3 separate regions of the Homo sapiens genome follow, and all the other regions are linked to region 3. Evidence: fine-mapped expression QTL. A gene starts in region 3. Each other region holds a variant in brackets. All regions are shown on one strand. Distances are from middle to middle.

Region 1 (8,183 bases), 260 kb after region 3:
TGGCTCATGCCTGTAATCCCAGCACTTTGGAGGCTGAGGTGGGTGGATCACTTGAGCCCAGGAGTTTGAGAGCAGCCTGGGCAACATGGCGAAACCCCATCTCTACAAAAAATTAGTCAGGTGTGGTGGCACACATCTCTAGTCCCAGCTACCCGGGATGTTGAGGCTGTAGTGAGCTGTGATTGCAGCATTGCACTCCAGCCTGTGTGACAGAGTGAGACCCTGTCTCAGAAAAAAAAAAAAAAAAAGAATGAGAGGCTGTTGTACCAGTTTGTGCATTTGTGTATTCTTCAAGACTGATATTGCTTCCTTTTTGTTGTTTTTAGACAGAGTCTTGCTCTGTGGCCCAGGCTGGAGTGCAGTGGCACGATCTCAGCTCACTGCAACTTCCACCTCCTAGGTTCAAGCGATTCTCCTGCCTCAGCCTCCTGAGTATCTGGGATTACAGGCATATGCCACCATGCCTGGCTAATTTTTGTATTTTTAGTAGAGATGGGGTTTCGCCATGTTGGCCTCGAACTCTTGACCTCAGGTGATCCACCCACCTTGGCCTCCCAAAGTGTTGAGATTACAGGCGTGAGCCACCGTGCCTGGCCTATTGCTTCCTTTTTTTAAGGACTATTTTGGTCATGACCTTTTGTGCGTGTGTGTATGTATGTGATTGGGTTGAATTTAGCTTAAAAAAAGTTATGCAAGAAATTCATGCTTGTTGTAACGTGTCAAACAATACAGAGGTGTAGGGAAAATACCTAGTGCCACCCTCCACTCCAAAACCCCATGTCGCCAGAGATAACCATTTATTCAGACAGTGAGTATCTATTAAGTATCTATTGCTAGGCTTTGGAGATAGCATAATGAACAAAATGGATGTGCTCTCTGCCCTTGTGATTTGGACAGATGCTTCAGTTATCTTTTTCTGTGTTTATATTGATTATGTTTGTATGTATGTGCGTGTGTGTGTGTGTGTGTGTATCGACTGTTTTCTTCCTCCTCCCATACCATTCCCCAAAAAAGGAGGGGGTAGGGATCAAGCTACACCTATTTGTAACCCAGTTTTTTCAATTAATGGCTGGGCATGTCCTTCCAAGTCATTACATATAGATCTGGCTTATCCTTTTCAACAGCTGTACCCACATTCTTCAGTGCAGAGAGACCACGCTTTATTCCAGCATTCCCCCACTGCTGGTCCTTTAGGTTGTTCCTCTGAGATGTCTTTTTTTTTTTTTTGAGACGGAGTCTTGCTCTATCGCCCAGGCTGGAGTGCAGTGGCGCAATCTCAGCTCACTGCAAGCTCCGCCTCCTGGGTTCACGCCGTTCTCCTCTGCCTCAGCCTCTCCGAGTAGCTGGGACTACAGGCGCCCGCCACCACGCCCGGCTAATTTTTTGTATTTTTAGTAGAGATGGGGTTTCACCGTGGTCTCGATCTCCTGACCTCGTGATCCGCCCACCTCAGCCTCCCAAAGTGCTGGGATTACAAGCGTGAGCCACCGCGCCTGGCCCCTCTGAGATTTCTTTACCTCAGCAAACACACATCTAATAAGTATCCTTGGTGGTGGCTCAGGAGATCGAGACCATCCTGGCTAACACAGTGAAACCCCGTCTCTACTAAAAAATACAAAAAAATTAGCCAGGCGTGGTGGCCGGTGCCTGTAGTCCCAGCTGCTCAGGAGGCTGAGGCAGGAGAATGGCGTGAACCTGGGAGGCAGAGCTTGCAGTGAGCCAAGATTGTGCCACTGCACTCCAGCCTGGGCGACAGAGCGAGACTCCATCTATAAAAAAAAGAAAAAATTAGCAGGGTGTGATGATGAGAGCCTGTAATCCCAGCTACTTGGGAGGCTGAGGCAGGAGAATTGCTTGAACCAGGGAGGTGGAGGGTGCAGTGAGCCGAGATTGTACCACTGCACTCTAGCCTGAGTGACAAGAGTGACACTCTGTCTCAAAAAAAAAAAAGTATAAAAAGTATCCTTTCACATAGGCAGCATGGCCCAGTGGCTGAAGCACAAACTCTGGGGCCACATGGTCTGGGTTCACACTGTGACTCTATCCTATATTAGTTGTGATACCTTGGGCAAATCATGTGTCCTTCTGAGCCTTAGTGTCCTGATCTGAAAATGGGGATGATACCAGTGTCTTCCTTATAGGGTGGTTGTTGAGAGGTTTCATAAGATTATCTATGTCAAGCCTTCAGGGCAGGGCCAGCTGTGATCTTTTTTTTAGAGACAGGGTCACTCTGTTGCCCACGCTGGAGTGCAGTGGCGTCATCATAGCTCACTGTAACCTTGAACTCCTGGGCTCAAGTGATCCTCCCACCTCAGACTCCCTAGTAGCTGGGGCTACAGGTGTGCACCACCACACCCAGCTAATTTTTAAATTTTTGTAGAGATAGGGTCTCACACTATGTTGCCTAGACTGGTCTCGAAGTCCTGGCCTCAAATGATCCTCCCGCCTCAGCCTACATGTGTTCTTTCAAACCCAGAGAAATTCACAGGAAGAGCCAACTCAATCACTTGAAACACCAGGTAGAAATAAGAAAAAGTTATATTGCAGGGATCCCGCTTGGAGATGTTGGGGGCCTAAGGTGAGGGATCCAGCTGCCGCTGAAAGAAGGGAGGAGATTTGCCCAGGAAGACAGGAGCCAGTAAAGTGCCCTGACCACAGTGGGTGGTGGGGGTGAGGGGCTGGTGGTGGAGCATCAGTGGGAAATATCACTCCTCATATTTGCGAGAAGTGTGCCATGGTTGGAAGGTGGCTTAGGTGGCGGGCAGACCAAGTTCAAATCACAGTATAGCCACTAACTTGTAAGATGTGCACTGAGCTTTTTTCTTCATTGGCAAAATGGGTATGATAGTAGTCTTTACCTCGGGGGTCGCTGGAGACTGAATGAAATGTCTGCAAGACTTTCAGCACATTAGGCTGTCATTAGCCCTGTGCAGTTAGCTACTATTCTTATTTTATTGAGTTGACAGATGTGTTGAGACCCTGCTGTGAGCCAGGGTCCTATCCTAGGCACTGAGGATTCAGCAGTCAACAAGACAGACAAGATCCTTGCTGTCCTAGGGTTTACATTCTAGCCATTCTAGCCCGGGAAGACACACAATAAACAGGATCATTTCACTTTGTGTTTTTGAGATGGAGTCTCGCTGTCACCCAGGCTGGCACAATCTCAGCTCACTGCAACCACTGCCTCCCAAGTTCAAGCCCATCTCCTGCCTCAGGCTCCTGAGTAACTGGGATTACAGGCATGCGCCACTATGCCCTGCTGATTTTTGTATTTTTAGTAGAGGAGGGGTTTTGCCATGTTAGCCAGGCTGGTCTTGAACTCCTGACCTCAGGTGATCTGCCTACCTTGGCCTTGTACAGTGCTGGGATTACAGGCGTGAGCCACTGTGCCCAGCCTTTTCTTTCTTTTTTTTTTTTTTAATTAAAAAAAATCCTGGCTGGGCACAGCGGCTCACGCCTGTGATCACAGCACTTTGGGAGGCTGAGGCGGGCAGATCACGAGGTCAGGAGATCGAGACCATCCTGGCTAACAAGGTGAAACCCCGTCTCTACTAAAAATACAAAAATTAGCCAGGTGTGGTGACAGGCGCCTGTAGTCCCAGTTACTCGGGAGGCTGAGGCAGGAGAATCACGTGAACCTAGGAGGCAGGAGGAGGCGGAGTTTACAGTGAGCCTAGATTGCACCACTGCACTCCAGCCTGGGCGGCAGAGTGAGAGGCCGTCT[CAA/C]AAAAAAAAAAAAAAAAAAAATCCTGATCCTGCCTCTTCAGATAGTTTTAACTGTGATGGAGAAAATTTAACAGGGTAAGTGGAGAGCAAATGGCTGATGGGGCAAGATGGCGGTGGTTACCTTAGCTTTGATGGTCAGGGAAGGCCTCCCAGGCCTCTTTGAGGAGTCATGTGAACTGATACCTTAATGAGCAGTGGCACTGGCTATGCCGAAAGTTGAAGAAAGAACATTCCAGGTAGAGGGAACAGCAAGTGTTAAGGCCCGGAGGTGGGAGTGAGTTTGCTACAAAGAGTATCAGTTTGACTGGAGAAGAGTTAATTCCTAGTTTTCAAGTTGATACTACTTTAATTTTTTTTTTTTTTGTGGCAGGGTCTGCTCTGTCGCCCAGGCTGGAGTGCAGTGGCATGATCTCAGCTCATTGCAACCTCTGCTTCCTGGGCTCAAGTGATCCTCCTGCCTCAGCCTCCCAAGGAGCTGGGATTACAGGAATGTGCCACCACACCTGGCTAATTTTTTTTTGGTACTTTTAATAGAGGAGACAGGTTACACCATGTTGGCCAGGGTGGTCTCAAACGCCTGACCTCAGGTGATCTGCCTGCTTCAGCCTCCCAAAGTGCTGGGATTACAGGTGTGAGCCACTGCAGCCGGCCACATTTTTTCTATTTTTTGTAGAGACCTGTTTTGCCCAGGCTGATCTTGAACTTCTGGGCTCAGGTGATCCTCCACCCTCAGTCTTCCAAAGTGCTAAGATTACAGGCACGAGCCACCATACCTGGCCTACTTTTTTATAAAATAATAATAATGATAGCAGCTTACCTGGTGCTTACTCTGTGCTAGATGCTTTTCTAAGCATTTCACACATTCCTCAGTTAATCCTGACAGTAGTCCAGTGAAGTAATTAACTTGATCAAACTCATTTTACAGATGAGGAAACTGATTCCACCCTCCATGCTCTTCACCTGCATTCTAAACTCTTCCAGGGCCCTCCTTACCAGGCAGAGGCAAATTGAGGAAGTGGACACAGCATTTCCTTTCCTTGTTGTTTGACATGCAAAGCACTTTAGACTATATTTAGTACCTAATTGATGTGGCAGCAGGGGCCGCCTGGGATGTTGTGGCATCATTTTTGCTCTCAATGAGACACGATAGGGATGGTTTGGTGGTGGTTTCAAAACTAAAGACCCTCCAGCAGAGCCTGTCAAGTAAAACAAGGTTGACTGCTTGGTTGCCATACCAGGCACAGGTTAGCATGAAACAAAGTGTAGTGTCCAAGGAGAGGGAGCAGGGTGTCTCCTTTGGGTGAGCTTTGCAAGGGGACTTGGGACTTGGCTGGAAAAGGTGTTTTTTTTTGTTTGTTTGTTTTTGTTTTTTTTGAGTCAGAGGCTCGCTCTGTTGCCCACGCTGGAGTGCAGTGGTGTGATCTGGGCTCACTGCAACCTCCGCTTCCTGGGTTCAAGCGATTCTCCTGCCTCAGCCTCCTGAGTACCTGGAGTTACAGGCGCCCACCGCCACTCCCAGCTAATTTTTGTATTTTTAGTAGAGATGGGGTTTCACCATCTTGGCCAGGCTGGTCTCCAACTCCTCACCTCAAGTGATCCGACGGCCTCAGCCTCCCAAAGTGTTGAGATTACAGATGTGAGCCATGCACCCAGCTGGAAATGGTGTTTTAAGCACACTAGCCATGTGGGCTGTTAAAGTATCATACTATAGCCCATCAACTAAGACAATGATTCTTGGACCTGTAAGGGCCCCAGGTCCCTGCTCCGGCATCATGACCTGTGTGCACTTTGATTTGCTGTAGCGTGGGCGTATTTTGAATGAAGGGTAGCCCTGGTTAGATGTGAGGACAGTAGTGGGTGCTTTTAAGACTAAAAATATTGGGTGGGCATGGTGGCTCAGGCTTGTAATCCCAGCACTTTGGGAGGCCGAGGTGGGAGGATTACTTCAGACCAGAAGTTCAAGACCAGTCTGGGCAACATAGACCCCAACTCTGCAAAAAAAAAAAAAGTTTTTGTTTTTGAGACAGTTCTCACTCTGTTGCCCAGGCTGGAGTATAGTGGTATGATCACAGCTCACTGCAACCTCTGCCTCCTGGGTTCAAATGACTGTCCTGCCTTAGCCTCCACAGTAGCTGGGATTACAGGCGCCCACCACCACACCCGGCTAATTTTTATATTTTTAGTAGAGATGGGGTTTTACCATGTTGGCCAGGCTGGTCTCAAACTCCTGACCTCAGGTGGTCTTCCCGCCTCAGCCTCCCAAAGTGCTGGGATTACAGACGTGAGCCACCGCATCTGACCTCATCTCTGCAAAAAATTTTTAAATTAGCCAGGCTTGGTGATGTGCACCTATAATCCCAGCTACTCAGGAGGCTGAGGTGAGAGGATCACTTGAGCCCAGGCACTACCACACCTTGAGCCCAGGAGATCAAGGATACAGTGAGCTATGATCACACCACTCTGTGTCTAAAAAAAAAAAAAAAAAAAAAAGACTGAAAGTATGGAGAGCATCTTTCATCTGTCCATCTGTGAAACATTTCTTCACCTACCCTGTGTGTCAGGGTCCATGCTTGACACTGACAGTATAAAGTTGAATAAGACACTGGTTCTCAAAAGCCCACAACAGTGCTGTCTGTTAGAAATATAACGTGGGGCCGAGCGCGGTGACTCATGCCTGTAATCCCAGCACTTTGGGAGGCTGACGCGGGTGGATCACTTGAGTTCAGGAGTTCGAGACCAGCCTAGCCAACATGGTGAAATCCCATCTCTACTTAAAATACAAAAATTAGCTGAGTCTGGTGGCATGTGCCTGTAATCCCAACTACTCGGGAGACGGAGGCAGAGAATCACTTGAACCCTGGAGGTGACAGTTGCAGTGAGCCAAGATTGCACCACTGCACTCCAGCCTGGGCAACAGAGTGAGACTCCTTCTCAAAAAAAAAAAAATGTGGGTCACTGATGAGGCTCATATAGGTAATTAAAAATTTTCTAGTAGCCATATTTTGAAAAGTAAAAGGAAGCAGGAAAGTAATTTTAATGATATATTTTATTTCATCTAAAACATCATTTCAACATGTAATCAATATAGAAATTATTAGTGAGCTATTTTACTTCCTTTTTTCCACATTAAGCGTTTGACATACAATATGTATTTTACACTTTCAGCGTATCTCAGTTGGTACCAGCCATGTTTCAAGTGCTCGGTGGCTACATGTGGCTAATGGCTACCACATCGGACAGCACTGGCCGAGGGTATGAGATTCACGTGTAAATCAAAGGTGGTAGTTCAGTGATAGATCTGACATGCCACTCCTGTTTTATCTTGGCGGAGAAGGGCAGATGTATGATGAAAAGCAGGTTTATCACAAGCAGTTATAGCTAACCAAAGAGCTACTGTCCATCAAACTTGCTGTATGTGCCTGGCACTGTGCTTAGTGTTGGTGGGTGTTGCCTGTGTTCGGAGGTGCCAGGGACTACAGTTATTCCCATTTCACAGATGAGGAAGCTGAGATAAGGCAATGAGAGGTCACTTGCTCAAAGTTGGGAAGTGGCAGAGGCAGCATTTGAGCTCAGGTGCAGAGTGTATACTTTTAAACCTGTTTTATATGCTGTATTGGAGGGTGTTTAAGGGGGATAGGGTCTGAGTTTTGAGCAATGAAAACCATAGGAGGGACTTGTTGCACAAAATCGATTCTGAGGCCGGTCGTAGAAGATCATACCTGTAATCCTAACATTTTGGGAGGCCCAGGCAGGAGGATTGCTTAAGCCCAGGAGTTTGAGACCAGCCTGGACAACAAAGCAAGACTCCACCTCTACAAAAATTTAAAAAATTAGCTGGGTATGGTGGCTTGTGCCTGTGGTCCCAGCTACATGGGTGGCTGAGGTGGGAGGATTGCTTTAGGCCAGGAGGTCAAGGCTGCAGTGAGCCGTGATTGTGCCACTGCACTCCAGCCTGGGTGACGGAGAAAGACCCTGTCTCAAAAAAAAAAGAAGTCCCAGTTTGTCAGCATTAATCTCTGGGTTTACATTGGTGTCGGTGTGCTGGTTTGAGACCTGAATGATTGAGAGGTCCACTCCTTAAATTGACCTCTAGGTTTGCTGGAACCTGGAACCTTACCTCCCAGGAAAGAGAGGGGTCTTTGGGGAGTTGGGAGGAGGGTGAGCAGGGGGACTAAGGAAGGCAAGGAAAGGTCTTGGCGTGTTTGAAAGCTCATTTCTTTGTTTTTTGTTTGTTTGATTGTTTGTTTGTTTTTGAGACAGGGTCTTGCTCTGTCACCAGGCTGGAGTGCAGTGGCGCGATCTTGGCTCACTACAACCTCCACCTCCTGTGTTCAAGTGACTCTCCTGCCTCAGCCTCCCGATTAGCTGGGACTACAGGTGCGCGCCACCACACCTAGCTAATTTTTGTATTTTTAGTAGAGATGGGGTTTCACCATGTTGGCCAGGATGGTCTCAAT
Region 2 (8,183 bases), 110 kb after region 3:
GACTCACAAAATAATACCACAAAATGAAGTCCGCAAAGCATCCTCAGAAGCAAAAGTTTTTTCTCGGACCTTCTCTTGCCCTCCTGTCTCTCAGTCCCATTCTCCCCCTAGGCTAACCATAAAGACTAGAAGCCCTCTTCCCCAAGGCAAGTCATGGAAACCAGAACCCCTTGTCCCCAGAGCTACTCATAAAACCTAAAAATATTACTCTAACTTTCCCCTGCCTTTTTGGGTAAAAACTGGCCATAAAAAATTCCCTGGCCTACTTTGTTTGACTGTTGGTCATAAGACCCCCATTCCAGAGAGTGTCCCCCATTCCGGAAGGAAGGAATACGTGTTCTGAGAGGCCAAGAAGAACCTAGACAGACAGGCCTTGCTGGGTTTCCCTACTCAGGCTATTAGCATTAGATCACACCCTTTTTGCCCAATCCTGTTTCTACATAGCTGTCCATACTTTGTTAAACCTAAGCATAAAAATAGGTAATTTCCCCTGTACCTTTGGATCTTCTTTCTAAAGGCTCCTGTGTCATGAAAAAGTATGATTAGATCAATTTGTATGCCTTTTCTTCTCAATCTGCCTTTTGTCAGTGATTTTCAGTGAAACTTCAGAGGGTGAAAAAGAAGTTTTTCCTTGGCCCGGACAGATACAATTATGAAAAGCATCTCAAACAAGTTATATCATATTAGCATTGCCTAAGGCACAAATTCTTATTTCACCAAATTATAATATTAGCATTGCCAGTGGAACAAACTATTATTGTCTCCTCATGTGATACAATGGGAAGAATAGAACATCACCTGGGGGCAATTTTTCAAAATATGTTGGGCTTGAATTTAATCATAAGGAAGTGATAATACATTGCAGATTGTAGACATTCTAAAAAGAAATCAAGTGGACTGGACTTTGCAAAGATGTCAATTTCATGAAGGAAGATGCTCTGAATTAAAGGATATTAAATAGATTTGGTGAGTAAGTATGACAGATGTTCCTTCAGTTGATCCTAGATTTTAAAATTTATAAAAGGACATTACTGGGATAATTGGGAGAAATTTGGATGTGGACTGTATATTTGATAATATTCTTAGAGAATTGTGAAATCACTTGGGTAATGTGGGCAAAGGGTTAACAAAACATTTTCTAATGTTCTGTAATTAAACATTAAACAGAATGGGAATCCCATTCTGCATGAGGATGTACTCTTAGGCTAACTCTCCAATGCTGCTTCCCTAAAAACAGAATGTGTCAACTATGTTAATAAGTTTCATTATTTATGGTAACAATGACCCTGATTGGCAAGTTGCACCTCGGACTGTGGACTAGGGGCTAGATGAAGAGAACACCATATTTAGGGTTTCTTTGACTACATTTCTTTTTAAAAGAGCATATCCTTGAAAGACCCTGGAAACGATGACTAAAGAATCCTCACACCAGATATTGTACCAACCTTTGGAGCCAGTCTTTTTTTTTTTTTTTGAGAAGGAGTCTCATTCTGTCACCAAGGCTGGAGTGCAGTGGTGCGATCTCGGCTCACTGCAACCTCCGACTCCCTGGTTCAAGTGATTCTCCTGCCTCAGCCTCCTGAGTAGCTGGGATTACAGGCATGCACCACCACACCCGGCTAATTTTTTATGTTTTTGGTAGAGACAGGGTTTCACCATGTTGAACAGGCTGGTCTCGAACTCCTGACCTCAAGCGATCCACCTGCCTTGGCCTCCCAAAGTGCTGGGATTACAGGCATGAGCCACCGCGCCCAGCCAAACCAGTCTTCTTAAGTCAGGGGAGGCCCACACTCCTGCCGTGTGGATCTCATTTCCTAGCACTTGAGCTCTAGCACCTGTGGAAAAGAGAGCTCCTGGAAGGCTGTCTCATATGCATGAATCACTGCAGCCATGCCACAGGGTGCTGAGCACCAAATACCCAAGAACAACTATAGTTATATATATATATATTATAAATATATACTTAGGTTAAGAGTAAATATCAGGGCCAGTTACCGGGGCTCAAGAGTGTAATCCCAGCACTTTGGGAGGCCGTGGTGGGCAGATCACTTGAGGTCAGGAGTTCGAGACCACCCTTTGTATTTTGTAAAAATACAAAAATTAGCCAGGCATGGTGGCACACACTTGTAATCCCAGCTACTTGGGAGGCTGAGGCAGGAAGATCGCTTGAAACCAGAAGGCAGAGGTTGCAGTGAGCCAAGATCCATCACTGTACTCCAGCCTGGGCGACAGAGTGAGACTGTCTCAAAAAAAACAAAACAAAACAAAAAAAACAGAGTAAATATCAGTCATAAGGGAGAAAGCATATGATGCAATGACTATATATTTCATAATATGATTACAGTGAAACTAAAAATTGGGAGGAGACTGGGCATACTAAAAAACTGTTTTCAGTAATCATTTAGGTAGTAAAGCTGTTACTAATGTTCTAAGAATGTTTTATGTGTCATAAAGAATAAAGGAAATGACTGGGCATGGTGGCTCATGCCTGTAATCCCAACACTTTGGGAGGCCAAGGTGGGCAGGTCACCTGAGTTTGGGAGTTCAAGACAAGCCTGACCAACATGGAGAAACCCCATCTCTACTAAAAATACAAAATTAGCCGGGCATGGTACCGCATGCCTGTAATCTCAGATACTCTGGAGGCTGAGGCAGGAGACTCGCTTGAACCCAGGAGGCAGAGGTTGCGATGAGCCAAGATCGCACCTTTTCACTCCAGCCAGGGCGACAAGAGCGAAACTCTGCCTCAAAAAAAAAAAAAAAAAAATAGAATAAAGGAAATGAATACTTGCATGGTATTTTAATTTTATCATCACTGGAGTATTGGAGAATTGGTACTAAGGAATAAGAGATACAGATCAAAGACAGAAAATTTCAATTAAACACCATTTAGTTCTAAGTTTGGCCAGGAAGTTGCCATATAAACTCATTAGGTAATTTATTTTTATGTAAATATGTAAACACATACATATATGTATACTTAGAGTTTTTTTTTGTTTTTTTTTTTTGTTGTTTTTTTTTCTTAAGACGGAGTGTCGCTCTGTCACCAGGCTGGAGTGCAGTGGCCCGATCTCGGCTCACTGCAACCTCCATCTCCCGGATTCAAGCAATTCTCCTGTCTCAGCCTCCCTAGTAGCTGGGACTACAGACCAGTGCCACCACGCCCAGCTAATTTTTGTACTTTTAATAGAGACGGGGTTTCACCATGTTGGCCAGAATGGTCTCGATCTCTTGACCTCGTGATCTGCCCGCCTTGGCCTCCCAAAGTGCTGGCATTACAGGCATGAGTCACTTTTTTTTTTTTTTGAGACGGTGTCTCGCTCTTTCACCCAGGCTGGACTGCAGTGGTGCTATCTTGGCTCACTGCAAGCTCCACCTCCCGGGTTCACACCATTCTCCTGCCTCAGCCTCCCGAGTAGCTGGGACTACAGGTGCCCGCCACCACGCCCGACAAACTTTTTGTATTTTTTGTAGAGACGGGGTTTCACTGTGTTAGCCAGGATGGTCTCGATCTCCTGACCTCGTGATCCGTCTGCCTTGGCCTCCGAAAGTGCTCAGATTACAGGCATGAGCCACTGTGCCCGGCCTTTTTTTTTTTTTTTTTTTTGAGACGGAGTTTCACTCTTGTCGCCTAGGCTGGAGTGCAGTGGCATGATCTCTGTTCACTGCAACCTCTGCCTCCTGGATTCAAGTGATTCTCCTGCATCAGCCTCCCCAGTAGCTGGAATTACAGGTAGCCGCCACAATGCCTGGCTAATTTTTGTATTTTTAGTAGAGATGGCGTTTCACCATGTTGGCCAGGCTGGTCTTGAACTCCTGACCTCAGGCTGGCCTCCCAAAGTGCTGGGATTACAGGCGTGAGCCACCACACCCAGTCACTTACAGATTTTTCTATCTTTAACTGGTAAAAAGCCTATAACAATCTTCAACCAAGAAAAATGGGCACTTCTAGAGGCTAGACTGTGGCCTTAAAATACCATTTCCCACTAAAAGAACCCAATAGTTCACAAACTTATGGCTGACTAAAGGCTTGGTACAGGAAACGTACAAGATAAGCCTGCAACACTTTGTCATATCAGATGGGAGAAGGCTGGCAATAAAATAACCGTCTAAATCTGGGAGTGGTGGCTCATGACTGTAATCCCAGCACTTTGGGAGGCCGAGGCAGGCGGATCACGGGAGGTCGGGAGTTCGAGACCAGCCTGACCAACATGGAGAAACCCCATCTCTACTAAAAGCACAAAATTAGCTGGGTGTGGTGGCACGTGCCTGTAATCCCAGCTACTCGGGAGGCTGAAGCAGGAGAATCGCTTGAACCTGGGAGACGGAGGTTGCAGTGAGCTGAGATTGTGCCATTGCACTCCAGCCTGGGCAACAAGAGCAAAACTCCGTCTCAAAAACAAAAACAAAAACTGTCTAGTTACCTATGAAGGATCCTAGGGGCCAGGCACGGTGGCTCATGTCTGTAATCCTAACATTTTGGGAAGCCGAGTCCGGTAGATCATCTGAGGTCAGGAGTTTGAGACCAGCCTGGCCGACATGGCAAAACCCTCCTCTCTACTAAAAATATAAAAATTAGCCGAGCATGGTGGTGCATGCCTGTAATCCCAGCTACTTGGGAGGCTGAGGCAGGAGAATGGCTTGAACCTGGGAGGTGGAGGTTGCAATGAGCCAAGATCACACCATTGCATTTCAGCCTGGGCGACAAGAGCAAAACTCCATCTCAAAAAAAAAAGAAAA[G/T]AGAAAAGACCAAATATTGATCAGCCTTTATTTTCCAAATGGTATCAGTAGTTACCAAATAGTAGGTGATGTAAAAAATTGTTTATATTTGTACATAATAAATGAAAAATAAATGTTAGAATTAGAATATGACCATTTTGGAATGTCTGATGAATTAATACATCCAGGCATTGAGCATAAATGACTGCTAAAAATCACAGAGAGACAACCAGAAGGTTTATGCTGAGAACCTAAACCATTCACTCCCACACTCAGCCTTGAAACAGAGAAGTGGACCTACCAATCCCCCTACAGGTAGCTTACTCTCTCCATAAACACATCCCACTGTTTTCCTCAGCACAATTTTACTGTTCTGGAAGTTTCTTGCAAAGGCAAATGGCTTCATTGTTCATTACTGGAAGTTCCTGAAAGATCCATCAACTCTTAAATGGCAAACATCAACAGTTTGTACTCTAGAAAATTTTCAATTCCTAACCTCAAAATTCTAACCTAGCTGTTTCCACTAATTCTCCACTGTGGTGTCTTCATCTTTACCTAATCCTAATCAAGTCCCCGCATGAAGACCAGCCTTAAACCAAACTTTTAATTCTCAGTAAAAGCCATCCTTGCCCTTCTGCCTCTGAGATACTATATAAAGCTCTTCAGAGGTGGTGTTTTCCTTTAACACAGTAAACCATAAGCCCAGCTCTGTCTGGTATGAGGGGAGCAGGAAAAGTGCCAACATATGATGCATACAATACTGCCCAGGAAGTTGTCTTGCAATAAAATAAATAAAATAAACTGAATCAAAATCGATTAAGTGTAACAGTGAAATAAATCTAGCATAGCTGACTCCATCTTACTTCTAACCTCACAAGCTAATGGCGTTTGCTCATAACTGCACGCTGGCCAAGTTAACTATGGGAGTATTTAATTTATACTATAACTTTAAAGCAAGGATAATAATCCCTTTCCAAAACTATTAATAATTCTCAAGGAGATAGGGAGGGTGTACATACAAGTAACAACGTTATGTTAAAGATTTATAGGAGCATTGTGACCTGACCGAGGACAACGTTGTGCAACCTTCTCGGACCCCTGCTGACACCCAGATATCTGTAGTCGCCAGTCACCTCCTGACCTCAACCTCCTCCTAGTTCCCCCTTCGCCAACATAAAAAACGGCATGAGATTCATTCCTTTTTTTTTTTTTGAGACGGAGTCTCGCTCTGTCACCCAGGCTGGAGTGCAGTGGCGCGATCTCGGCAAACTGCAAGCTCCGCCTCTCGGGTTCACGCTCTTCTCCTGCCTCAGCCTCCTGAGTAGCTGGGACTACAGGCGCCCGCCACCACGCCCACCTAATTTTTTGTATTTTTTTTTTAGTAGAGACGGGGTTTCGCCGTTTTAGCCAGGATGGTCTCGATCTGCTGACTTTGTGATCTGCCCGCCTCGGCCTCCCAAAGTGCTGGGATTACAGGCGTGAGCCACCATGCCCGGCAGAGATTCATGCCTTTTAAGATGGTTCTTTAGGACATTAGCCTGCCATCTTCTCGCTTTGCTGGCTCTCTGAAATAAAGTTCCTTGCCCTAACACCTTACCTCTTGACTTACTGGCTGTTGTGCAGTGAGCAGTATAAGCTCTGGACTCAGATACATAAGCCTCTTGACCCCTCTACTTATTTAGAGGATATAGAGGGGTCAGAGAACATATTTAAGCAAATCTCAGGGATGGCATCAGCAAAAAATAGAATGGAAGATGTTTCTTCAGCAAATAAGGGGTTAAGAACACAAAGAAAGATGAAGACAAAACTTAGAGACTTGCGAAAACTTAAAAAGACTTGAAATTGGAGAAAAAATAAAAGGAAGGAACTTATTACCATTAAAATCAGAATAGTGGTTACACTTAGCAGGAGGAAGGAGATTGTGACTGGTTGCAGACATGTGGAGGACTTCAGAATCAACTAGAAACTCTCTCCTTGTTTAGAAATACTGCTTGGAGGGTATAAAATAATCTTGTATGTCATTATTATAACCTTTCTGTAACTCTAAAATTATATTAAAATAAAAAAAAATTTTTAAGTTTTAACTCCTGACACGGCTGTGGTGACATGATTGTTTAACTTGTAAGACTCAGTAAGCTACTCATGTGTTATATGTTGTTCTCTGAATCTGTCTAATGTTTTTAAAAATGCCTTGAAAACAATTACATCATTGGTTCTAATCCTTCTTATTCCCAAAAATTCAAATTCAACAATACCTCATGTGATCTGACTACGCCTAACAATGTGACCTCATTTCTCGTCACTCTCCTCTTAGGATCTCTATTCTGGTCTACTTTGGTGCTCCTCAAACTCACATAGCTCTCTCTATTACCCTCCCTTGACTATCCATACTCCTTCCCTCCAATGCTTCAGCCATCTCCTTAGCCTTCTAAGCTCTTTATTCAGCTTGGAATATTCTTCCCCAGATAAACACATGGCTTGTGACCTTATACCATGTCTCTTTCCAAATACTACTGCCCCAAAGAAGCTGTCCCCAGCCATCTCATCCAAAATGGCCTAACCTCTGCTTACTTTCTACCATTGCTTATTCCACTGCCTAATAGTAGTTGTTTGCCTGCTTATTTTATTTTATTTATTTATTTATTTTTTGAGATGGAGTCTCTCTCAGTCGCCCAGGCTGGAGTGCAGTGGCGCAATCTCAGCTCACGGCAAGCTCCGCCTCCCGGGTTCATGCCATTCTCCTGCCTCAGCCTCCTGAGTAGCTGGGACTACAGGCGCCCGCCACTATGCCCTGTTAATTTTTTTGTATTTTTAGTAGAGACGGGGTTTCACCGTGTTAGCCAGGATGGTCTCGATCTCCTGACCTCGTGATCCACCCATCTCGGCCTCCCAAAGTGCTGGGATTACAGGCGTGAGCCGCTGCGCCCGGCCTATTTTATTTTATTTTTGAGACAGAGTCTTACTCTGTCGCTCAGGCTGGAGTGCAATGGCGTGATCTCGGCTCACTGCAACCTCTGCCACCTGGGTTCAAGCGATTCTCCTGCCTCAGCCTCCCAAATAGCTGGGATTACAGGCACCTGCCACCATGCCTGGCTAATTTTTGTATTTTAAGTAGAGACGGGGTTTCACCATTCAAGACCGGCCAGGCTGGTCTTGAACTCCTGACCTCCTGAGCCACCCACCTTGGCCTCTCAAAGTGTTGGGATTACAGGCATGAGCCACTGCGCCCAGCCTACCTGTTTATTTTTATGTGTTCTTTAGTACAATGTAAATTTCCATGAGGATAAGGACCTTACATGTCTTCCTCATGATCACTACATTGATATGTGTGTTGTGTGTGTGTGCAAAAGGGGAGCTGGAAAAACAGTTGAGTCCAAAATACAGGTAAAATATTGCACTAAAGAAAAACGAGGCTGGGTGTAGTGGCTCACAACTGTAATCCCAGCATTTTGGGAGGCTGAGGC
Region 3 (8,183 bases):
TCTTGTTTTTTGTAAGTTTAGTTTTCTAAGAAATTATCATTAATTCATTTCCCCGAATCATGTAATTGAAGGATGAAGCTCCTGGTATAAAATAGCACAGCTGGCCGGGCACAGTGGCTCACACCTGTAATCCCAGCATTTTGGGAGGCCAAGGCGGGTAGATCACGAGGTCAGGAGATCAAGGCCATCCTGGCTAAAACGGTGAAACCCCATCTCTACTAAAAATACAAAAAATTACCTGAGCATGGTGGCATGTGCCTGTGGTCCCAGCTACTTGGGAGGCTGAGGCAGGAGAATTGCTTGAACCCGGGAGGCGGAGGTTGCAGTGAGCCGAGATCACGCCACTGCACTCTAGCCTGGGCGACAGAGCAAGACTCCATCTCAAAAAAAAAAAAAAAATAGCACAGCTGTCTATTTTATATTCTAAGAATGAAAAATCAATCCTTCAGAAATACAGTCAAATACTTCAAATACCTGTATCCCACCTGGCAAAAGTCAATTCCTAAATATGCCTAACTCTGAAATTCACATGACTCTGAGGTGAAAAGTTGATCAAGTCATAGGAGCCAGAAATCCTCCTGAAGGAATTGCTTGGGCAGTTTGGAATATTCCTGTCCAATAAGTCATTTCTTAAAAAATTTACAAAACATCCATAAAATGGAATACTAAGGTAATCACTAAATGCTAAATTTTAGAAAACAGTTAAGGAAAGGAAAATATTCAAGATACACTGAAAGAAAAAAAAAGTTTACAAAACAATATATGATTAGATTTTTTAGACCATTAAAGGGAAACAGACTTGAACAGATGAAAAAAACTCTTAAAATTTCAATTCTGAGATTTTAAAATTAATTTTAAAATCAGATTTAAATCTCAACTTAACTGAAATTTCCATAATTTGAAGAACTGTAAATATTTGGAAGGTCTGTCAAACCAGAAGTGGATCACTGGGATGTCACTTTTCTCCATACATCCATGGAGTCATATAATCCACAAGAGCACTGAATTCCTCTTTTAAACTAAGAACTAGAGGTCTTAGTTTCTTTTAAATTTGCAATTAGTATTAGCCTGTTCTTCAGAGAGAAAACCACCAGCCGGGTACGGTGGCTCACACCTGTAATCCCAGCACTTTGGGAGGCTGAGGCAGGTGGATTGTCTGAGGTCAGGAGTTCGAGACCAGCTTGGTCAACATAGTGAAACCCTGTCCCTACTAAAAATACAAAAAATTAGCTGGGCGTGATGGCAGGTGCCCGTAATCCCAGCTACTTGGGAGACTGAGGCAGGAGAATCACTTGAACCCGGGAGGCGGAGGTTGCAGTGGGCCAAGATCGCGCCACTGCACTCCAGCCTGGGAAACAAGAGCGAAACTCCACCTCAAAAAAATAAATAAATAAATAAAACCACACACAAAACCACACAGACTTGTAGAAATATTTTGGGAAAATATGCTCTAAAACATTAATAATTATTATTTCTGGACATTGGGACCATTGATCATTTTAATTTTCTTTATAGGTTCCGTAGTTACTAATATTTCACAAGCTTGTATTAATTCTGTCATCAGAAATATTTTAAAAAGCTATTCCAAAAAATTTTAAATGACTGGGAAGATAGGCTACCTTACAGTCATTAAGAAAATTGTGGGCCAGGTGCGGTGGCTCACGCCTGTAATCCCAACACTTTGGGAGGCCGAGGCAGGTGGATCACTTGAGGTTAGGAGTTCAAGACCAGCCTGACCAACATGGTGAAACCCCGTCTCTACTAAATACAAAAAATTAGCCTGGCATGGTGGCGGGCACCTGTAATCCCAGCTACTTGGGAGGCTGAGGCAGGAGAATCGCTTGAACCCGGGAGGCAGCGGTTGCAGTGAACTGAGATTTCGGCATTGCACTCCAACCCGGGCAACAAAATCGAAAACTCCGTCTCAAAAAAAAAAAAAAAAAGAAAGAAAAAAGAAAATTGTGATTAAACAGGCCCTGCATAAATGGTGACAACAGGGAAATCAGTGTGACTGAAAAAATAATTTCTACCAGTTCCTGAGTATTGTATCTCATCAAGACCCTGAAATAGTTCTGTGAAGGATTACAATCCTGGTTCATGTCATTTCCAAAGTGATTAAGAGCCAGTAAGAACTGCAGACAAAAACAAATGCTCATTTCACAGCAGCTACTTAATAACTTGCATTTACCCCTCCTCAGCTCCAATAAATAACTAATCATTAAATACCTAGCAATTTAATATTTAAATATTACATTGTTGCAAAATAACTTAAAAACCTTTATTGTAGTATACAAGATTCATATGTAACAATTTCTTGATGATTCTTATTTACAACAATACTTCTCAATATTACATTATACTTTTTTCTTATGACTAAATATAAACAAAATTCTTATTATTGCATAACATTCCATCACATGGAGTGTGATTTAACCATTTCCATACTGCTAGATATTAATTTTATAAAAGAACATCCCGAAAGTCATTACCAGTTATTTCATTTCTAGACAGTGAGAATCAATGTTGTTGGAGCTTATACAACTCTGATAATACCATGAAATGATAGACTTCCTCGCTCCACTGAAAAAATTAACCATTTACAAATACATACAACAATTCTGTATATAATCTTAAAATATCTTTGTTGCCCTGAAAGCTCATAAACAGAGTCCAAGGACTTATGTTACCAATCCCTGTTCTGGTCCACTGCAGGGTCTGGCTCATTTTCCTGCTTGCAAGCATCCATCATAATTACCTTCACATTTGCATTGGTCTTGGAAATACACAAAGCTGATAGGAAATGACTGAGCATCATCATTTTAATACCAGTAGCTAGTATGAATTAAGGACTCACTATGTGCCAGGCACTCTCCTAAGAGCTTCACAAATATTAATTCATGTAATCTTCAAAACAACACCGTAAAGTATACACTATTACAATTCTGAGGAAATTGAAGCACAGATTGCTTAAACTCGTTCAGATTTAAGTGGCAGTCAGGATTCAATTCCACTTAATCTAGGCTCGAAATTCTTAACCACTACACTACACCTCCCTCAGTCGATCCAAGATATACCCAAAATAAACTCATGCTGCCAGACCTCAAACCACATCTGGCTGGTACCAAAAACTTCCACTCATGAATTTCCTGGAAAAAAAGAAATCTCCACTCCTACCCCAGAACCATTAAACATATCTAAACCCTAAAAAACAAATAAAAACAAAGTATGAACATTAATCTCCAGCACGGGTATTTCCATATCATCAAGATCCTTAGAAAAACAGCGCTCACAGAGTAATTGAATTTGCAGCCTACAGTTAACTAACCATGTGTCTAACTATAGAACAGCATGAAGTGGGCACTAACAACGGGAAATCTATTAATTAGGTCCCCTGCCGTTAACTAGGTAGGGAAATCCTAAGGCCCAAATCAATGAATAAATAGATCATTCCTAAGCAGGATTTTAAACGGAAGGAACTCGAATGCATTTCACAGAAACAAAGCAGCAGCACGAACTCACAGGGAACCGGCTTTTAGAAGAGCAGCAGCGATTCGTTTCTCCTTCTCAAGCGCCTTCTCTGGAAACTGGCAGGGCTGGGGAAGCAGGCAGAGTTCAGGACACCCCAGGCTTTTCTTGACTCGATTGGAACCCACCCTCCACGCTTCCCTGGCCCCAACTAACCGCCACCTGCATGCACAAATGGAAACGACAGGGCAGAGGGTCAGCAGTCACCCGCGTCTGGGTTCGCAGCTCCGGGTACGCTGTAGTTCCGCACCCGGTTGCCCACGCCCGGGACCACCCACTGTGTCTTTTCGGAACTGTCCAGCGTGTCCTCCTAGACCCCAGACACCCACCCCAAATCTAGGTCCCAGCGTTTTGCAGGGGACCTTCATCCTGGGGCGTTCACCTCTGACTTCCCTCTTGGGCCTTTTCGCTACGGCCGAGCCTAAGTGGCTGAAGCGCGGACGAGGATGCGCGGGGCCTCGGTCTCCAACTGCACCACAGGCCGCACCCACGAACCTGGTCCGGCACAGTTACTACCGCCCGGGCCTCCAGGCCTCAGGGCTGCAGAAGCTCAGTCCCGGGAAAAAAAGCACACCGGCCTGAGGCTCCACAGGAACCTTTTCTCCACCTTGGCCCGGCCTGCAAAACCTGGCCCACTCCGCGCTCTTTTCCCTCAGAAAAGCAGCGGCCACAGTGGCGCCCGGCTCCCAGCCCCAGCCTCACCCGACTCAGAGGATAGCCCAGCCCTGGGAGTCAGCGGCGCCAGAATACGGGAGAGCGCCTGTCTCCGTCGCGAATGCGCTAGCGCGCGGGGGGGCGGAGGCAAGTCCCGCAGCTGCTCCGGGCCGGGAGGGGCGCGTGGGGCCGGGTCTCGGCGGGGATAGTCGGGCCGGGGAGACGGAGCCAGAGGGGCCGCAGTGTCCCTCGCCTCAGGCCTCTACCTGTAATGGCCGCCCCGTGACTGACCAGTGCCATTAAAGATAATCCAGGCCTGCTCCCCTGTGGACACTGCGGTCCAAAATTTAAAAAAACAATATTCCGCCTTTTTATTTTTCATTTGGTTCTCGGCTCGGAGACAGGCGGAGGCTGCGAGCCCCGCCCCGCCCCCAGCGACGCCTCACCGGAACCTTTGGAAATCGGCTTCTGCCTCGAGTGCGCAAGCGCGCGGGGGGCGAACGCTGGGGCCCTTCAGGGAGCAAGGGAGAAGTGTGGGGCCGCACCTGCCGAGGGGTCGGGAGGTTTGGAGGAGGGTGGAGGTTGGCTACAGGATCCCGATGGGGATGGAGTGTTCAAATCTAGGCCTGTAGCCGTGACCCTGGCGTGAGTTGGATGGAGGAAACCCCAGTATCGCGAGCCTGGACCAAGGCGCGGCGCGTGCTGCCTGTGGTGTTTGCTGAGTGACGGCCGCCGCGCCCCCGCGTACCTGGACCGAGTGCCTGGCCGCTGGCGGAGTAGTGTTTCCGTGCACGGGGCTGCTGCGTGCGCGTGTGCCGTTCTCTAGCGGGGGATTAGGATGGTGCCGCAGAGAAGGCTGCGCGGTGGTGCCTGACTCTGACGCTGGCTGTAGCGGGTCTCTGGGGTCTTTGCGGTTTGTGTCTGCGTTTGTGACGTACCTGACATCGGATCTGTGACTGTGGCTCTGCCTCATCCAGCGTTATTTCCAGAATCCTTCTGATAGGGCAGCGCTTCTGGTTCTGGTTTTCCATGGAGACGGTTTGTGGGTCCCTATGAAACTGAGTGTTGGGATTTTGATTATCTGCATCTGGCCCTTGTGTGCCCTCAGGACTGTGGTGTTAGGCAAGTAAAATAATTGCAGGAAAAAAAATTGGAAAGGAATAAGGTTGCTATTACTTCCAAATGATGGAATTGTAGGACTGTGTCAGAAAATTGAATAGGACACCATGAAACGGGAGGGAGAGGCATTTTATTTTCTTCCATACCTGGTCTTGGAATATTCTAACAAATGAGATTTGTTTTTTCCCCTTTGTTCCTGGATGAACTCTTGGATAAATTCAATGTCTCCAAGCATTCTTGGATAGTAAGTTTCTTTGATCTTTAGTTGAAAGATCAGCCTCATTTTCGTAGCTAAAAATACCTTTAGTAATAAAAATGTTCATTGTAATACTTCATTTAAAATATTTAAAACTTTCTTCTTTCTCCTTGATCTCTTCCAGATATCTCAAGTTTTGGTTAAGTGAATATGTGGAGTATATGTACTAATTACGTCAATTATTTTCTCTTTAAAACCAAGTACATTTCTTACATGAGTTTGTTTATCAAGGATTTATTGGTTTTCTTTGTACTTGTTGCTATTTTTTAGAAATGTTCCAACAGATATGTTAAATGTTCATCGATTATTTTTTCAGTGGTTCAAACATCGGAGTAGAATCTCTCTTCCATTCTGTGGCTGCAATTGGACTGTACAGTTGTCCTAAAATTTACCGTCATTGTTTTCCTAAGTTTGATTCTTGTTTCCTAGAATTCAGCTAATTTTTGCTAAAGTTCTTTTCCAATAAGTTCCTTAAGATGCATGTATTAAAGATGTTTTTTAGTTCTTTCATGTTTGAAATTTTTTTTTTTTTTGAGACGGAGTCTCACTCTGTTGTCCAGGCTGGAGTGCAGTGGTGCAATCTTAGCTCACTACAACCTCTGCCTCCCCAGTTCAAGCGATTCTTCTGCCTCAGCCTCCCGAGTAGCTGGGATTAAAGACGTGCACCACCACGCCTGGCCATTTTTTTTTTTTTTTTTTTTTTTTTATAGTTTAAGTAGAGATGGGGTTTCACCATGTTGGCCAGGCTGATTTCGAACTCCAGACCTCGGGTGATTCGCCCACTTAGGCCTCCCAAAGTGCTGGGATTACAGGCGTGAGCTACCGCGCTGGGCCTGAAAATGTCTTTATTCTGCCTTCACACTTTGCCTAGATTCAGAATTTGGAGGCGTCACTTCACAGTGTTCTAGTAGCTAATGTTGTCAAGTCTAATACCAATTGTTTTCTGTTCCTTTTTAATTTCATGTCCCACTCCCACCAACGCCCAGATACCTATTGCCACCTGTAATCCACAATGCACTTACATTTCATAATTTATGCACTTGGCATGTATGTTTAAACATTTTTTTCTGCTAGTTATAGGGCAGCACTTTATAGGTCTGAACATTTTTCTTCCTCTTTTTCTTTTTTGACAGTCCTCTATCCTTCTGAATTTTTGTTCTCTTGTCCTGGAATTTGTATTTCATGGAAGGACTTTTCATGAGCTGTATGTTTTGTCTCCTATTTTTTCTCTTTTTCTCTTACTTTGGGAAATTTTGTTGACTTTACAGTACAATTGTATTTATTTTTAATTTGATAATCATTTCTAATTTCCAAGAGCTCCTTTATATTCTGTAATTTTTATTTCTTCATAGCCTTTCGTTTTTATTATGGATGCAATAAAACCTCTAATCTCTCAGAGGGCAATTAGTTTAAAGTTTTCTGGTGCTTTTTTTTTTAATCTATTTTTGTCTTTTATATCCAAATCAAATTCCCCCTTTACAAAAAAGTTTGAATTGTTCTCTTTTTATACTGGATACTTCCCTGAAATGTGTGGTAATCCTTGCCTCTAGTCATGGAGTGAATCTTCTCAACCTGACTTCAGAGCCAGCCGTTTCATTGGGAGATGTGAGCTGTTCTTTAGTTCCTCCTTTGAGGACAGTGAGTTAGTGATGTCTGAGACCTCAAAGACCTCTCAGAGGCCCCCAGTTTTGAGTGTAGTTTTTCATTTAGTTTGCCTATGACTCAGTTCTGTCTTTCTTTATGCAGGTATACATCCTCTCTGGGTCATTTTATCCACAGATCACCCCCCTACCCCAATTTAGTGTATTTGATCACATAAGAGAGGAAAAGTAAAAAAGGTGAACAGCCAGTTTGTGTTCAAACTTTCAACCAATCTCCTGTTTCCAGATCCACATCTCTCCAGGGTCATGCTCTTTGGTGCCTGAGCTTCCAGGGGTTTATGCATTGAATTGCCTCATTAATAGAAATCTGACTCCTAAGCCCTTTCATACCAGAATTCTTGGACAGTTCTCCTGTTTTTGTGTGTGCGTTTTTTTTTGTTGTTGTTGTTGTTTTGTTTTTGCAGTCTCCCTCCTCATTTTCTTTGGTTCTTACATGTTAATACTTTTTATATTCCTTTACTTAATATATTCATTTTAATATTTTTTTTTTGCAGAGGAGAAATGGGAAATCAATGCATCTACTTACTCTGTTTATGGAGAAGCCTTTCATTACTCTTTTAAGTAAGATTTTGCTTGTACCGGACTTTTTTTTTTTACACCAGCTTATTTCTTTTAGTTACTGCTTTTGTTTTCTGTTTCATTAATTTCCACTTTTATCTTTATCAGTTTCTTCTGATGACTTCTCAGGGTGTATTTTCTACCTTTTTATTTACAGTTTTCTATTCCTTTCAAATTCATCAGGTTGTATTCTGAAAAAAACCCTTGGTCTTAACTTCCAACTTGCTGAGAGATGTTCTCTAGCTGTTTCAGTATTTTCACTCCTTTTTTAGCCCAATTATTATTTTTTAAAATTAATTCTGAAAAATTACAGATACACAAGAGAATGTATAAATGTGTTTACAGTTGAATGAATGAAAATAATGAAACTAATTCTTGTACCATAACTTCATAAAATATGAAGGTCTCTT

The links. PIP is the estimated chance that this variant, and not a neighbour inherited with it, causes the effect.
Region 1: its variant is the best candidate, but not a certain one, in a credible set for the expression of ZFP30 in non-classical monocytes (Schmiedel 2018, PIP 0.54).
Region 2: its variant is the best candidate, but not a certain one, in a credible set for the expression of ZFP30 in whole blood (INTERVAL, PIP 0.77).

Annotation. Positions count from the first base shown.
Region 1 is chr19:37,910,300-37,918,482 of GRCh38, forward strand. All of the region lies in intron 1 of SIPA1L3 (signal induced proliferation associated 1 like 3), which reads left to right. Among named protein-coding and RNA genes, the nearest start is that of SIPA1L3, 7.2 kb to the left of the region's middle. RefSeq lists enhancers at 472-541, 672-721, 4,590-5,455, 5,456-6,321. The variant CAA/C (reference allele first, on the strand shown) is at 3,725.
Region 2 is chr19:37,761,316-37,769,498 of GRCh38, forward strand. All of the region lies in intron 4 of ZNF573 (zinc finger protein 573), which reads right to left. Among named protein-coding and RNA genes, the nearest start is that of ZNF573, 14 kb to the right of the region's middle. The variant G/T (reference allele first, on the strand shown) is at 4,741.
Region 3 is chr19:37,651,193-37,659,375 of GRCh38, forward strand. It overlaps ZFP30 (ZFP30 zinc finger protein), which reads right to left and starts at 4,273. Exons shown (of 6, transcript NM_001320669.3): 1 at 4,228-4,273; 2 at 3,520-3,687. RefSeq lists a silencer at 4,229-4,418 and enhancers at 4,442-5,429, 4,829-4,878.